Linked DNA regions of Homo sapiens. The protein of the gene in region 2 purifies or fractionates together with the protein of the main gene of each other region. This does not show direct contact. Each region holds a gene or a part of one and is shown on either strand. Other genes may lie near its edges.

Region 1 (8,088 bases), on a different chromosome or scaffold from region 2:
CAGGATCAGGATCCAGAATAAACTGTCATAAAAGACATTATTGAATTAATTATAAAAATTCAAATATAGGCTGTATATTAGATAATAGTATATTAGACAACACCTTTTCTGATTGTGATAACAATACCATGGTTATGCACGAGAATTTCCTTGGTCTGAGGAACCACACCCTGAATTATCTAGGGAGAAAGGAACATCATAGCATCAATCCACTCTCATAGAGCTCAGAAAGATAATAATAGAGCGCGTGTGTGTACAGACAGGGAAAGATAAAACAAATGTGGCAAATGCTAACAACTGATGAAGCTGGGTGCACAGTAAATGGGAGTTCTTTGCTGTAGTCTCAAAAAAAAATTATTTTAAAAATTTTACCTAGCACATAGCAAAGGTTTCTTTCACCCTTCCTCTGGCCATCCTTAACTCTTCGATATACTTTTTAACTGATAAAAATTTTGCTTGGTTGACTGGATTTTTTGCTTGCCAACATTTAAAACACATGAGTTTTCACAAAAAAAAATAAATAAATAAAAAATCCCATCTTTTCTGGAAAATTTGTAAGATGCAAGAACTGGCAACTACGTGACCACTGCTGAGTGAGAGGCAGTGCCTTCTGGCTGGCTTCACTCATGTACCTCACCAGCCCGGCCCCTGAGGCGTCTAAACTGGACTCCTGGTTTGTAACAGTGCCGACCACAAGCCATGTGGAAGTGGTCACTGGGAGGAAGCAGCAGCCAGTGTGGTTCTGCTGTCACCTCATCAAGGCAGAGGGGTGAAAGATAACTAAGGCCAAGGAGTTAGCTCCTCCTGTGCCCCTCCAAGAAGTCCTGGGTCAATTACTGATGTCTTAAGACTCGCGTACCTCACCCTACCTACCGTTGAGAAATAGCTTTTCCAATTTCTCCAGCAGCTCAGCACATTGATTCAGCTGTTCCTGGAAACCCTCGGCCACACAGTAATCCACATCACTGGCCTGCAGCAACTCCTCAAATGCCTTAATCATGGTGTTCATGTGTTGACGGGAGATGACACAGATGCCATGGCCATCCTTAATCTGCTGCCGTTGAAGGGAGAGCTCCCTGGCTTGGGACTGAACTAATGAATCGTATCTGATAAAAGAGGGGAAAGAAAATACTTGGACCATTTTAGAATTGAATTTTTGTGACCTTAACACTAATTGGAAAAATGACAGAGTACAATTTTTAAAAGCCTGCAGCTGTACAAGTATATATACTTTTAGAAAAATTGAAACTGTACAAGGTCAGCTCTTCTTTGATTTCACACAGCCAACAAAGGCTGGAACAAAGATTCTTCTGCAACATTTTTAACCTTATAAAGCCCCCAATTAAAGTACAGATTGGCAAGAACTCAGGCAAACAATAAGTTTCCATACACTCTTCAAAAATACTATTCTGAATTGTAGAAACAAGTGCCCCAAGGGTCAGAGGATCTACCAAAAATTCTCATGAAGTGTGATAAAGAAAGTGTACCACAAAGAAAAAAAGACAGGACTCTCTCCTCCCGAACAAAACGTCACTGAATAATCATGATGCTAACTACCATTTACTGAGGGTCTAGGACCTGTCAGTAACTGAATTCAGTGCTTTATATGTTATCTGATCCTCTCAGTCTTCCAACAAATGTATAAATGTCCCCTTTTACAGAAGAATAAACTGACTGCAAAGCTAATTAAGTGGTAAAGATTTTGGATTCAAACACAATTCTCACTTTGAAGATCATTATGCAATATTACCTTTTTACCGTCATGTGCCACCTTTTCCTACGTGAGCCCATAAGAGAAAGACACTGAGAAGTAAACAGGTTAAGGGAAATGTGACTCATGTAAACTGGCCACAATAACCTTGCTCCAGAGAGTAGCTTGGCAAAGATGTTGACACTTCAGTTCAACATAATTTTCTCCTTCCTGGAAATGACAACACTACATGGGCTGGCAGTCACCTTCAACATAGAGTGTGCACATGCAGATTACATGATACCAGCATTAAAGGTGGGGGCCAGTATCATGTGAGTACTGGAGTAACATGGGTAAACATGGGTAACTCATGAGTAACATGAGTAAACATGGGTACTGGAGTGGGATGATGTGGGCTTGAACCCTGGCAATGGCTCTGACCAGCTCTGTGAATGTTCTCTGCCAAGTCACTGCAGCTACTTTGAGGCTCAGTTTCCCTACCTGTAATAACTAGTTTAAGAATACCTCCTTCTCAGGTGATTTTGAGGATTAGATAAGAAAAGTGCCTAACCAGGGGCCTGAGACAACAGCCTTTCAATAATTACAAGCTTCCTTCAATCTCACTGCTTGGGAAGTCTTGAAAAATTCATCCTGGCTCCTGACAATTCAGAACAATGTGTTTGACTCAAATTAGTGACAAATGAAGGTCAACTTTACTAATGATCCCATTTTTGCCATATCTCATGAAGCAAAACCGTATATATCTATGCCCATAAAGCATTATCTTCATGACCTAAGAATTCTTCTCTTTCAACACAAGCTTATTTCTCTAAGATGACCTTAAAGGGTAAAGATATGGAAAATATTTATATTCCTCCTACCTTGCCTAGACATCAGTTTTAGTTTCACAGCACAGCAAAAGCCAGTAACAGAGTCCAGGAGTACACACTGCAGTTCAGCAAAGGCACTATCACTCACCAAGTGACTGGTATGAAACCTTTACCCTGAGCCCCCAACTTGAGGAGGGCGAAATCTGCCCTGCAGATTTCCAGAGGACCCAAGACTCGTAACTGACGTTCAAGTGCGTGGTCGCTGTTCCTCTTCTTTGTGGCCTCACCTCTCCCTTCTCCACAGGACCTGGCTGCCTGAACCCCACCATCAAGCCTTCCCCAGAACACACTCTACCCATCACAGAGTAGTGTTCTCTTTTAGCTCATGGGCTCCCACCTAGTGGCAATACTGGGGGACTACAGGCTTAAACGGGGAGACGGCAGAGGTGGAACGTACCTGGGAGGTGAGAGATCTCTGAACTTATTCTGCAGATTATGGATCTCACTGAAAAGTTGCATGTTCAAATTCTGCTCCTTCTGCAGCTTGTATTCCTGTTCCTCCAGCTGCTGTTTGAGGTTCTCCAGCACCCTGCTGTCAATCATCTCTGGGGCCAGCGGACCGAGGATTTTCACGTGTTTCACGTATCGCACTTGGTGCAAACTTGAAAAGGTCATTTCTTCCCCATCAGAACCATTCTTGGGCTTGCTCAAGCCATCCTGGGCCCCTTCTGTCCCACACAAAACTGTAATTATGGCCTCACTGCACTGGGAGTGCTTTTGAAGCTGAAATATGAAATTCTGGTAGCCTTCCAGCTCAGTTTCCAAGTCATGGATTTTCTGTTTTAAGTATTCTGTCTCATTTGAGGTATTAATGCTCTCTGACTGATCAGTCCCCATCACACTGACTTTAGCAGAAGGCTGACTCTTGGAACTCAGGTAAGTAGCTACTGAAGTTGGGCTCAGAACATCTTCAGGATTTTCTTTGCATGATGGCAAGCTGGCAAGGTCATCAGGTGGGCAAATCTCAGAGTCTGAAAATCAAATACACTTATGTCAGTATCTCTTTTACTAAAATCCAAACCCTCTCTCCTTCCTCACAGCCCTAGCCAAGCCAAGACCACTGCAGTGACCTAACAAGCCTCCCTCAAAAAGGCCCTAGTATTTCCTAACACACTTCCCTCAAAAAGCCTCCAGTCTTTCCTAACAAGCCTCCCTCAAAAAGCCCTAGTCTTTCCCTCTTTACCCCTCAGTTGTCCTCTTCCTCAGAGTGACTGTTCTAAAAAGTAATTTTAACCATGATAAACCCACACACACACCCCCTAAAATTCATCGACATTCCCAGTATCTACATGAGACCTTCCATGATCTAGTTCCAGGCAACCTTTCCAGGAATATCTCTGGCACCACTCTGGAGATTTCCTACAAAATTAACCATGATTCCCTGCACATTGCGTGCTGTGTCATGCCTCCATGCTTTTGCATGGGCCGTGCCCTCTGCCTGGAACACCTTCAGCCCTCTATTCTACTCCTACCTAATGAACTCTTTCCATACCCAGATCTAATTTTCCTTCCTCTGCAAGCCCACTGCCAAACTATGCAAAAGTCACAACTCGCTGTGGTTCTGTAGCACCTTATGCATATTACTCAAGACAAATATACTATGTGCTGGGTGCTAAAGTAAAAATTTTAAGTGGCTTATTTATTGATTCACATAGCAATTCGTCATCTGAATGTAGCTCTCCCTCACCAGACTGCACGTTTCTTCACAGCAGAGATGTGGCCTTTCATTTTCACATTCTCGGCGTCTAGTACAGAACCTAACCCAGACCAGAAGTCAGTGCCAGTGTGAGAAATATTGAGAGATTCTGTGAAGCAACAGTAAAGAGTGGTAATTCTGAATATCCACAACACGTGACAGTCTTCTCATTTCCATGTCTAATGGCTTCCAGGAGATGCCCTGACATCCCCTTTAGTGAGGTGTTTCACTCACTCACAACACTGCCAGGAAATATTTCCTTATAGCTAGTAATAGCTAAACCCTTAGAGATGCAGTCAAACTTGTTTCAGAAGTGGAGTAGTACAGCAGAAAGAATATGAAGTTTGAAGGCCACACAGCCTGAGGCAAGTGACTTTACTATCCAAGAGCCTCAGTTTCCCCTGTGTCTAAAATGTAGAAAGAGATGTCTCATATGGTTGTAGTGCAGCTTCTGTTCTTAACCACTGTGCCACACTGCTGGCTGCCCAGGGAAAGTTCCGTTCAATATAGAGAGCTGTCTGAATACTTAAGGGGCAGCGGAATGTAGTAGAAAAACCTGTCTTTGAAATTCAACAGACATGGTTTCAAACTCTGGCTCTGTCACATAGGCAAGTTACTTGACCTCTCTGAGCTTTAGTAGCTTTATCTGTAAAATGGAAAGAACATCACTGAAAAGTTGTGTGTGTGTGTTTGTTTTTAGGGATTATATGGAACAAAATCTGCAAAAAGAAAAAAAAGGCTAGCACAGTGTCTGGCACATAGTAGTGAAGGAATCCAAGTAACACAAACATCCTCTAACCATTCCAAGATAGAAGGAGATGCCCTTCACCGGAGGCGTGCGTGCGAAGGCCAGCCTGGAAAAATGCTACAAAAGCAACAACGTGGGTTGGACTGGGTGACCTAGGAGATCTCTCAGAAAGAAATTCACACACAAATCCTCATCAGACTGCATGTCCCAATTTCTGGTTCTGCAATCTGCTCCTTGTGACTTGAGGTACACTCTTGTATCTGTTCATGATGCAAATACCATAAAGTATGGCATTTCATTTCAGAAAGCAGCTGCTACCTGACCTAAAGGAAGCATTCCTAATACAGTATTTTTATTATACACAATGTTATGATAATTACTCAATAAGAGCCTTGAGGGTGCAGACCGTGTCATCCATGTCTGTTTCTCCAGTATCTAGCACAGGGTCTGCGACAGAGAATGTACTCACCAAGTATTTCTGGCTGAACAAGAAAGAGAAAGAGGAACTGGGGAGGGAGATATCTCTCCATAAGGCTTTTTTTCCAGTGAATCACCCTCCAAGACAAGAAAATATCTTTGCTGTAATAACCTCATGATAATAGAATTTGGTCTGTACTTCATGGCAAGAAGCGTGTTCACTCATGGAAATAAAGATTAGTTCCCAGGACTTTCCTTAAGTAATTATGAGGCATCACTAGTACCCCCATTTTACAGAAGAGGAAGTTGAGGCTTAGGGAGCTTAAGAATTTGCTTAGGGTTCAGGGTAGGTAAGCAGTAGAGCCCCTCCTCAAAGCCTGGCAGTCTGCCTCTAACACTCTGAATGATGCTTCCCGAAGTAACACTCCTGCAATCCAATCTCCTGTACCGCGGTGCATGAGCAAAGAGAGAGAGAGTTCTTAACCCTCAATGTGAAGGCCAAGATGCCTGTAAAATCCTTTATTCACATCCCAAGTATCTGTCAAGGGCCTTGTGAAAAAGAAACAGCAATGAAGATGTCACACGCAGCACCCAGCCTCAGCTGCGCAACAATTAAAAGGTGGAAGTTCAGGCAGATGCAATTCACATACAAAGTTCTGGAAGCACATTCAGAAAAATGAAAGACATTCAGTAATGAAGGGAAGTACTGACAGGGAAAGGGAAGCTGTCGATTAGTTAAGAAGTCTGTATTAATAACTATCAAGAAGAAATCAAAAGATGTCCCCAAGACCATTTATGAATATTTGCATTATAAGAAATACTATAGTTCTACAACTTTCCACAATTCAGCTAAGGGGGACTTTATTGCCTGGTAGAGTAGCTTTCTCCTCAAAGCCCAGAACACGCAGAAGCATGTGACCATGTGTTCACTGCAGTGACTCTGGACCTTGCAAAAGTATACAACAGTGTATATACCACAACTCAGTATTTTTCCAGAGACTGGTGTCCCCATGGCCATCCCATGACAAATTTAGGATTCTTGAGGACAATTATTTCTAACAGAGTGAATTAGATCTGGATTAATAGTGATTTTTTTTAATGAAGGGGGAAAAATATCTAACATAAAAAGAATGTAGGCATTTGTTCATTCTGGTTGAATGAGAACATGAGTATTTGTTATATTATCTTTTGTGCTTATGTATGCTTCTAATACTTCATAATTTTAAAAAGAAAGGAATACAACTTGCCTCTGCCCTCACCCGTATCTCTGCACCTTTTCCACTGATCTGCCTGGCAAACCCCACAAACCCAGTCTCAGCCTCAGGCTCTCTTCTGACCCACTCCTCCTGGGCACACGGACCAACACCAAGCACACCTCAGCAACAGGCAGCCCCGCGCTGAATACTAACAGGCTGTTGGGATGATTGTCTCCTCCGAGCTGTGGGGTCCCTAAGAGCAGGCTGTGTCTTTTCATGTTGAACCACCAGAACCCAGCCCACTGCCTGGTAGAGAAGCATGCTGACACATGGACGGGTGGGTTCTGACATCCTACTGTACCTTGACTCTTCTCCTACTTACCAGCTGGGTGACCCTGGGTCAATTATTTCTTAAAACCTCAGCTTCCCATGTGTTAGACTGGAATGATAATAATGCCCTGAGAGGGCTGCTATGGGCTTAGTAATAATTTTTAGATAAAACATCCAAATGGTGCCTGGCACATGGAAGCTGTTCAATACACACAGGGGCTGAATTCTGACCAATCTCGTAGCTTCTTTGCTGATCACTGTCCATTTCCTTGTCTCTCCAGACAGAAGATGTGGTTTTAATTCCTTTCTGCTCTCCTGGGCTGTCCTGGTAGGCTGCTCCCACAGGGGGCTGAGCTACAGGCAATCACAAAGAGAAAGAAAAATAAATAAAACCGTAAGACCTGAAACTTAGCCAAGCAACTGAGAAGAACACAAAGATACAACAGGGAAAATAAAAACACTGGGGAGGCAAAATGCAATTTATAAGATAAAATTAATCTATCGAGCTGCCATAACAGGACATAAAAAGCATAAATATACTGCAGCTTGTCTGAAATGGTTTAAGTCCAGGCTCTCAAAAAGCTGAGTGAGAAAATGAATTCTATCAATTCGTGCCCATTTTTCCCAAGAAGAGAGAGGCCCTAGGGTCTCCTGGGCAACTGTTTGAGGTAGCACCTGGAGTTGAGGCACTCTGGTGTCTCAGCAAAAAATAAAAACAGTATTGAGTGCAAATGGCAAGCTAGGAGCCAGCATGGTGGCTCATGCCTATAATCCCAGCACTTCGGGAGGCCGAGGCAGGGGGGCCACTTGAGGCCAGGAGTTCAAGACCAGCCTGGGCAATATAGCAAGACCCCCATCTCTACAAAATATAAAAAATTTAAATTTGAATTTTAAAAAATGGCAAGCTATGGGCAAAGTGCCAGGGCCTCTGTTGAGCTGAGTTACCTTTGCCATAAAATCTTTCCTCCATGAAGGTCCCCACAACCCTGTATTGATTTAGTTAACTGCCACCTCCCCAAGCCCACACCAGATGGGGAGTTCTCAGAAGGCAGAGACTGCATCTGATTTATTTCTCTCCTACCCCCAGTGCATGAGGCTGGAAACATAGCAGGTGCTCAGGG
Region 2 (8,088 bases):
CTGATTGTGAAGATCCCACGCTGTTCTGGTGTGTGGTCACTGACTGTGAACATCCCACGCTGTTCCGGTTGGTGGTCACTGATTGTGAACATCCCACGCTGTTCTGGTGGGTGGTCACTGACTGTGAACATCCCATGCTGTTCTGGTGGGTGGTCACTGACTGTGAACATCCCACGCTGTTCTGGTGGGTGGTCACCGACTGTGAACATCCCATGCTGTTCTGGTGGGTGGTCACTGACTGTGAACATCCCACACTGCTCTGGAGGATGGTCATTGACTTGCTTCTGCTGCAGCTGTTCCAAGTCCTCTCTCTTCTCTCCATCACAGTCCTCCGGCTAAGAAGGGGAGGACCAGAAAGAAGCATTTAAAGCAAGGTCTAGGGCTGCAGCCTCAGGCCCTTCCCAGCTCCTCTATCTGCAGGCCTGTGCTGACTTCATTTAACAAGTAGAGCTCACTTCCACCTGTTCAGAACGTGCACCTTCCGCATTAACAATTCCCAAGCTCTAAACATTTTTTTTTTTTTTTTTGAGACGGAGTCTTGCTCTGTCGCCCAGGCTGGAGTGCAGTGGCACAATCTCAGCTCACTGCAATCTCCGCCTCCTGGGTTCACGCCATTCCCCTGCCTCAGCCTCCCTAGTAGCTGGGACTATGGGTGCCCGCCACCACGCCCAGCTAATTTTTGTATTTTTAGTAGAGACAGGGTTTCACCATGTTAGCCAAGATGGTCTTGATCTCCTGACCTCGTGATCCGCCCGCCTTGGCCTCCCAAAGTGCTGGGATTACAGGCATGAGCCACCACACCTGGCCAGCTCTAAACATTTTTATAATGCAAGTAATTTCCCTAATGATGTTCCTGCCCCTCTTCTTAATGAATTCTACTTTTTTTTTTTTTTTTGAGACGGAGTCTTGCTCTGTTGCCAGGCTGCAATGCAGTTGCACGAACTCGGCTCACTGAAACCTCCACCTCCTGGGTTCAAGTGATTCTCCTGTCTCAACCTCCCGGGGGTTTCACCATGTTGGCCAGACTGGTCTTGAACTCCTGACCTCAGGTGATCCACCCGCCTCGGCCTCCCCAAGTGCTGGGATTACAGGTGTGAGTAACCGTGCCCAGCCTGTAATTTTTTTTTTTTTTTGAGACAAAGTTTCACTCCGTCGCCCAGGCTGGTGGCATGACCTCGGCTCACTGCAACCTCCGCCTCCGGGTTCAAACAATTCTCCTGCCTCAGCCTCCCGAGTAGCTGGGACTACAGGCGCATGCCACCACGCCCGGCTAATTTTTTTTTTCTTTTTTGTCTTTTTTGAGACGAAGTCTCACTCTGTCACCCAGGCTGGAGTGCAGTGGCACAATCTCAGCTCACTGTAAGCTCTGCCTCCCGGGTTCACGCCATTCTCCTGCCTCAGCCTCCTGAGTAGCTGGGACTACAGGCGCGTGCCACCATGCCCAGCTAATTTTTGTATTTTTAGTAGAATCGGGGTTTCACCATGTTGACCAGGATGGTCTCAATCTCTTGACCTTGTGATCTGCCCAACTCGGCCTCCCAAAGTGCTGGGATTACAGGTGTGAGTCACTGCGCCCGGCCATGAATTCTACTTTAAAAAAGAAATTTAATTAATTTTTTGAGACAAGGTCTTGCTCTGTCACCCAGGCTGGCGTGCAGTGGTGCAATCCCAGCTCACTGCAACCTTAACCTCCTGGGCTCAAGTGATCCTCCTGCCTCAGCCACCTGAGTAGCTGGAACTACTGGCATGCGCCACTGTGCCCAGCTTATTTTTTATTTTTTTGTAGAGACAGGGTCTCTGTTCATTATGTTCCAAAGCTGGCCTCAAAATCCTGGGCTCAAGCAATCCTCCCACCTCAGCATCCCAAAATGCTGGCAATACAGGCATGAGCCACAGTGCCCAGATTAGCTTGCTTTAACAAGATGATTCACTAAGAACATTTCAATTTCTTCCCAAAATAGCAAAGAAACATGACAGTGTCGACTTTTCGGGATCATTAGATGAGTCACAAGATGAATGCAGAGAGAGAGCACCCATGGCCAATGATGATGGCAAAACTGACGTGAAAATAAAATCTCAGACAAGTCTTCATTTGACAATACCCTAGATCAATCTTCTCAGAATCAAGAGGAAGTGAGGGACGAAAAGGGGACACAGTAGTCTCAATCAGCTGCCCGCTCACATGAATGATCACACTTCAAAGGAACCTGGACCATCCACTTCCTTAAGAGGACACTTCTAATGTTTGTGTGTCAAAACTTACTTGATACAAAGAGGTTGGATCAAATTTCTTATAAAGTTGTTTTAAATTATTGCTTTATTCTTACTTCTGTAAATTACGTGTAAAACAACTTAAAATGACAAAACAGTAAAACGGCCCAGAAATCTAGATGATAAATGGTGATAACTATTTTTCCTGGTATTTGATACAAATATGAGTTGGAAAAGTGCTAGAACCACACTTCTTAAGCCTTCTATAGCACTAGTTAAATCTTCTTCAGCCAAAGTTTTTGTATTTTCTTCTGAAATTCTTGACCTCTGAGCAATTTTTGGATGGTTCTCTTTTTTTTGGAGATAAAGTCTCGCTCTTGTCCTCCAGGCTGGAGTGCAATGGCGCGATCTCGGCTCAGTGCAACCTCTGCCTCCCGGGTTCAAGTGATTCTCCTGCCTCAGCCTCCCGAGTACCTGGGATTACAGGCGCCTGCCATGAGACCCGGCTAATTTTTGTATTTTTAGTAGAGATGGGGTTTCACCACGTTGGCCAGGCTGGTCTCGAACTCCTGACCTCAGGTGATCTTCCTGCCTTGGCCTCCCAAAGTGCTGGGATTACAGGCATGAGCCAATGCGTCCCGCCAGATGGTTCTTTTACCAAAAAATGGCCTCTCCTCACTTTGTTCCTCATCTGTAACTGAAAGGTCAAATTCTGCTTTCTACCATTGCTTTATTTTTATGATTTTTTTTTTTTTGAGACAAGGCCTTGCTCTGCCGCCCAGGCTGGCGTGCAGTGGTGCCACCATAGCTCACTGTAGCCTCAAACTCCTGGGCGCAGGTGATCCTCCCAACTCAGCCTCCTGAGTAACTGGGACTACACGTGTGCACTGTCATGCCCAGCTAATTTTTATATTTTTCATAGAGACAGAGTTTCAACCATCCTCCCACGTTGGCCTCCCAAAGTGCTCGGAGCCACCATGCCTGACCTTGCTTTCTGCCATTTCTGAGTTAACTTTCAGAACTGAGACAGCTGTTGCATTGTTTCAACTATTTTTCCATCATGCACTTAACAAATTGTAAGGCAACAGAGCCGAATCCTGAATATTTACCACAAAGTCTTTCTGCAATTCTACCTTCGCTTATAACCATCCTGAAAAAAAACTAAGATCTTAAAGTTGGTTAAAAATATGTCTTATATCAGCTGGGCACAGCGGCTTATGCCTGTAATCCCAGCACTTTGGGAGGCCGAGGTGGGAGGATCACCTGAGTCAGGGAGGTCAAGGCTGAAGTAAGCTGATTGGGCCACTGCACTCCAGCCTGGGCGCCAGAGGGAGGACCTGTCTCCAAAAAAAAGAAAAAAGACTTATGCTAGAAATCATCAGTATTTACCTAACAGTTAGTGATCAAAGTAAGCAATTTATTATATGTTGGAAAGCACAATAACTTCTCCCTCCCCCTCACACACACATACACACACTCTCACACACACACAAACACACACACTTATCTTCTTATGCTGTTCAATAAGCTCACTAGACTCTCCATAGCCAAACCTCTCACAATTTATAGATGGGTAAAATAAAACAAATGCACCTTTCATTATGTTTAAAGCACTGGTACAACTATAACATAAAGGTTCCTTGAGGATTCCTGATCTCCGACGCAGCATGACCAACCATCTGAGAGGGGAGTGCCCTGGCCTGGGACATTATTCGGCCACACGGCCACCAGCTGCTAGCTTTAAACAGTGGACTCTTTCCTAGAATTTCACTTTTCAGAAGATCATTATTTTGAACACAAAATTACTCCTATTTTAACATCTACAACTGGATTAAAGGCATACTAAACTCAAATATCATGAAATATTTTATAATACATATGAAAAAAACTCCTTTTTAGACTGAACTGATGATGTACAATGATATAATCAGAAAAAAGTTAATGAAATATCTGCTTCTAAAGCACCAATGGTTTTTATATACATAATTGACAAAATGGCTTAAGAAATTTGATTCCTAACTTAGTGTACAGCAGAAAGACAATGGCTCTATTCTACACATACTACTTAGTTTACCTATACATGTATAAAGAAAATAAATTTTAGCCAGGTGGGATGGCTCACACCTATAATTCCAGCACTTTGGGAGGCCGAGGTGGGAGAATTACTTGAGCACAGGAGTTTGAGACCAGCCCTGACAACACAGTGTAACACTGTCTCTACAAATTTTTTTTTAAGTTAGCCAGGTATGGTGGCACATGCCTGTAGTCCCAGGTACTAGGGAGGCTGAGGCAGGAGGGTCACTTGAGGCCAGGAGGTCAAGGCTGGAATGAGCCATGATTGCGCCACTGCACTCCAGCCTGGTCAAGAAAACAAGACCCTATCTCAAAAAAAAGGGGGAAAAAGCTGATGTCCAAGATCCAATAGGGGTTAATACCTGATGACTGCATGTTTAGCTTATTAAAATGTCAGGAATTCTGTGGAAAAAGCTGACTGGTACCTGACCTTTGCCCACCATTTTAGAGCCAATGGACAGGAAGAGGAGGTATGTCTCTGCTGATGTCAAGCTGTAACTGTGCAGAGGAGTTCAGGATGACGATGTGAGATGAAAATCAGTCAGGCCCTGCCATGCCTTCATTCCATGAAGAATCCTGGCTGCAGGAGCACATACTTTTCCTAGAGAAAGTATCCTTACATTTTACCAGCTTTTGGTTTTTAAAATACTGCTTTAAACAGTTAAGTTACTACTCACAGCAACAGTTATAAGTAACAGAATGCTTTACCTTGGCCATCTTGCCATTGTTTCACCAAGTTTTGTGAAAGCAGACCTCTCCTCACATCTGCCACACCACCCCACGCTTGAGGGTGAAGTGTCCTGTCCACTGTGGTCACGAGGAGGTGACACAAAATGCAGCAAGTGCAGTGAGTGTGCGTGTGCATCTCTAAGTCAAGGGGACCAGTAATGGGCCTGTTATTTATAGATTGCTTTAAGATGTCCAAAATACATGTTTTATTAGTGGTATAGTTAATTCTAAAATGAAAAAAAATGTTATATAAGTAACCTAATGTGTTTATTGTAGGAAATACCAAAAACCATAACAACGAAAAAACCAACAACTCTATTCCTTTCTGACCACCACTGTTAATTTTCTGGTATATGCCCTTCTGGTTTTGAAAACAAAAATCAAAATGCTTTTCATCAGATCATCTTCCTGAATGAAGGCATGCATCAAATAGCAGAGTTAGAAACTAAGAGAGTCTCTACCTGATGAAACAGCAAAGTATGAGTGTTTAATCAGGAGTCTATACCATGCCTTCTAATGTTAACGACCCATCAGTCTCCAAATACAATTTACCACAAAATGTGCTAAGTTTGGAATGGTTTTCTGATAGGATCCTGAGATTCCCACATATATTTATCAGCTTACTACTTTTAAAACGTCTATGCAGGCCAGGCACAGTGGCTCACGCCTGTAATCCCCACACTTTGGGAGGCCGAGGCAGGTGGATCACGAGGTCAGGAGTTCGAGACCAGCCTGGCCAATGTGGTGAAACCCCATCTCAACCAAACAAATACAAAAATTAGCCGGCCATGGTGGTGCCCACTTGTAATCCCAGCTACTCGGGAGGCTGATGCAGGAGAAACGCTTGAAATCGGGAGGCAGAGGTTGCAGGAAGCAGAGGGCGTGCCGCTGCACTCCAGCCTGGATGACAGAGTGAGACTTCGCCTTAAAGAAAAAAAAAAAGTATGTGCAACCAGAGGGCCGGGTGCAGTGGCTCACGCCTGTAATCCCAGCACTTTGGGAGGCCAAGGTGGGTGGATTGCTTGAGGTCAGGAGTTGAAGACCAGCCTGACCAACATGGTGAAACCCTGTCTCTACTAAAAATACAAAAATTAGCTGGGTTTGGTGGCAGGCGCCTGCAATCCCAGCTACACGGGAGGCTGACGCAGGAAAATCGCTTGAACCCAGGAGGCAGAGGTTACAGTGAGCCAGGACTGCACCACTGCACTCCAGCCTGGGCAAAAGAGTGAGACTCCATTTCAAAAAAAACCAAAAAACATATGCAACCAGAATATATCAAAAGTAACTTTCTGCCCAGCAAGGTGGCAGAAATCCTGTAATCCTGGCACTTTGGGAGCCTGAGGCAGGAAGATCGCTTCAGCCTGGGAGGCAGAGGTTGCACTGAGCAGAGTTCGCGTCACTGCGCTCCAGCCTGGGCAACAGAGAGACTGTATCTTAAAAAGAAAACGGGAAAAAAAAAAAAAACACACCAACCCAACAACCAAAAACACTCAAGAGATAAAAAGCAAAATTCAGGATTTGTAGGTAGAATAACACAAATTTTAACTGTTGCCAACAACTCAATTTTTTAAGTAAAGCAGGATACATACATTATGACCTTGAGCCAGATTCTGCCTTTGGCCACCAGTTTTCCAGCAAATCCTAGCAAACATCAAAGCCTGCACCCATTCTGCTGCAGCAGCAGGGACACTCAACACCTAAGGCCCTCGTTCATAATTCATACAAAAGGCCCAAGGACAGCCCGCCTCCAGGCAGGTTTGTAGGCCCCCAAGGAGCCCGGAAGGCCAGCCCCTTCAGGACTCAGTGTGCACTCACCTGCCACACCTGCCCATGGGGGTGCCCCTGCAGCTCACAAGGCCTCAAGCAGCAGACCCAGTCTCCTCCAGCAACACACCATGTCTGCAACACCTTCACCCCTTCCCTCTTCATCTCACGTTTAGTAAAAAGGTAAAAGACAAATGTGACAAGCAGGTGCATTTACAACTATGTGAAGGAATATTATGTTTTAAATGTCCCAAGAAACACCCATCAAAGGGGCTGACACGACCACACACGAAGAACTCCCAGTCTTCCATTACAAAGCAAACAACTGACACTTGTCTTCAAGTAGTTAATCCAAAACTTCTCAAAATTACATAATAAAGATAAAACAGGGCCAGGCGCAGTGGCTCATGCCTATAATCCCAACACTTTAAGAGGCTGAGGAGGGAGGATCACTTGAGCCCAGGGGTTTGAGGCTGCAGTGACCTGTGATCACACCACTGCACTCCAGGCTGGGCAACACAGCAAAACACTGTCTGGAACAAACAAAAGAAAAAAAAAGAAAAAGAAAACCCAAATTTATTAAGAATAAAACCATAGGCCGGGCACGGTGGCTCATGCCTATAATCCCAGCACTTTGGGAGGCCGAGGCGGGCAGATCACGAGGTCAGGAGATTGAGACCATCCTGGCTAACACAGTGAAACCCCACCTCTATTAAAAATACAAAAACTAGCCGGGCGTGGTGGCGGGCGCCTGTAGTCCCAGCTACTTGGGAGGCTGAGGCAGGAGAATGGCATGAACCCGGGAGGCGGAGCTTGCAGTGAGCCGAGATCGCGCCACTGCACTCCAGCCTGGGAGACAGAGCGAGAATCCATCTCAAAAAAATAAAAAATAAAATAAAAAGAATAAAACCATAAAAATTTACTCACTGTTTTTTTTTTTTTGAGAGAGAGTCTCGCTCTGTCACCCAGTCTGGAGTGCATTGGCGTGATCTCGGCTCAATGCAACCTCTGCCTCACAAGTTGAAGCTATTCTCCTCCCTCAACCTCCCGAGTAGCTGGGATTACAGGTGTGCGCCAGATGTCCGGCTAATTTTTGTATTTTTAGTATAGACAGGGTTTCTCCATGTTGGCCAGGCTGGTCTGGAACTCCTGACCTCAGGTGATCCGCCTGCCTCGGCCTCCCAAAGTGCGGGGATTACAGGCGTAAGCCACTGCACCCGGCCCTCACTTTTTATAAACTAAAATAACACCCTCTTTCCTCACTTTTGAAAGGCAAAAACAGACCAAAGACCATCTTTAGTAAATCACACT

Evidence for each region.
Region 1: the proteins of PCNT (region 2) and CDK5RAP2 purify together in Homo sapiens (co-immunoprecipitation; 4 studies listed by BioGRID and IntAct, with this or other methods). This does not show direct contact.

Annotation. Positions count from the first base shown.
Region 1 is NC_000009.12:120,436,422-120,444,509, forward strand, and holds part of CDK5RAP2 (CDK5 regulatory subunit-associated protein 2), read right to left. Parts: intron 7,322-8,088; coding exon 7,199-7,321; intron 3,552-7,198; coding exon 2,978-3,551; intron 1,107-2,977; coding exon 874-1,106; intron 1-873. UniProt on the Homo sapiens protein: Potential regulator of CDK5 activity via its interaction with CDK5R1. Negative regulator of centriole disengagement (licensing) which maintains centriole engagement and cohesion. Involved in regulation of mitotic spindle orientation.
Region 2 is NC_000021.9:46,326,644-46,334,731, reverse strand, and holds part of PCNT (pericentrin), read right to left. Parts: intron 336-8,088; coding exon 1-335. UniProt on the Homo sapiens protein: Integral component of the filamentous matrix of the centrosome involved in the initial establishment of organized microtubule arrays in both mitosis and meiosis. Plays a role, together with DISC1, in the microtubule network formation.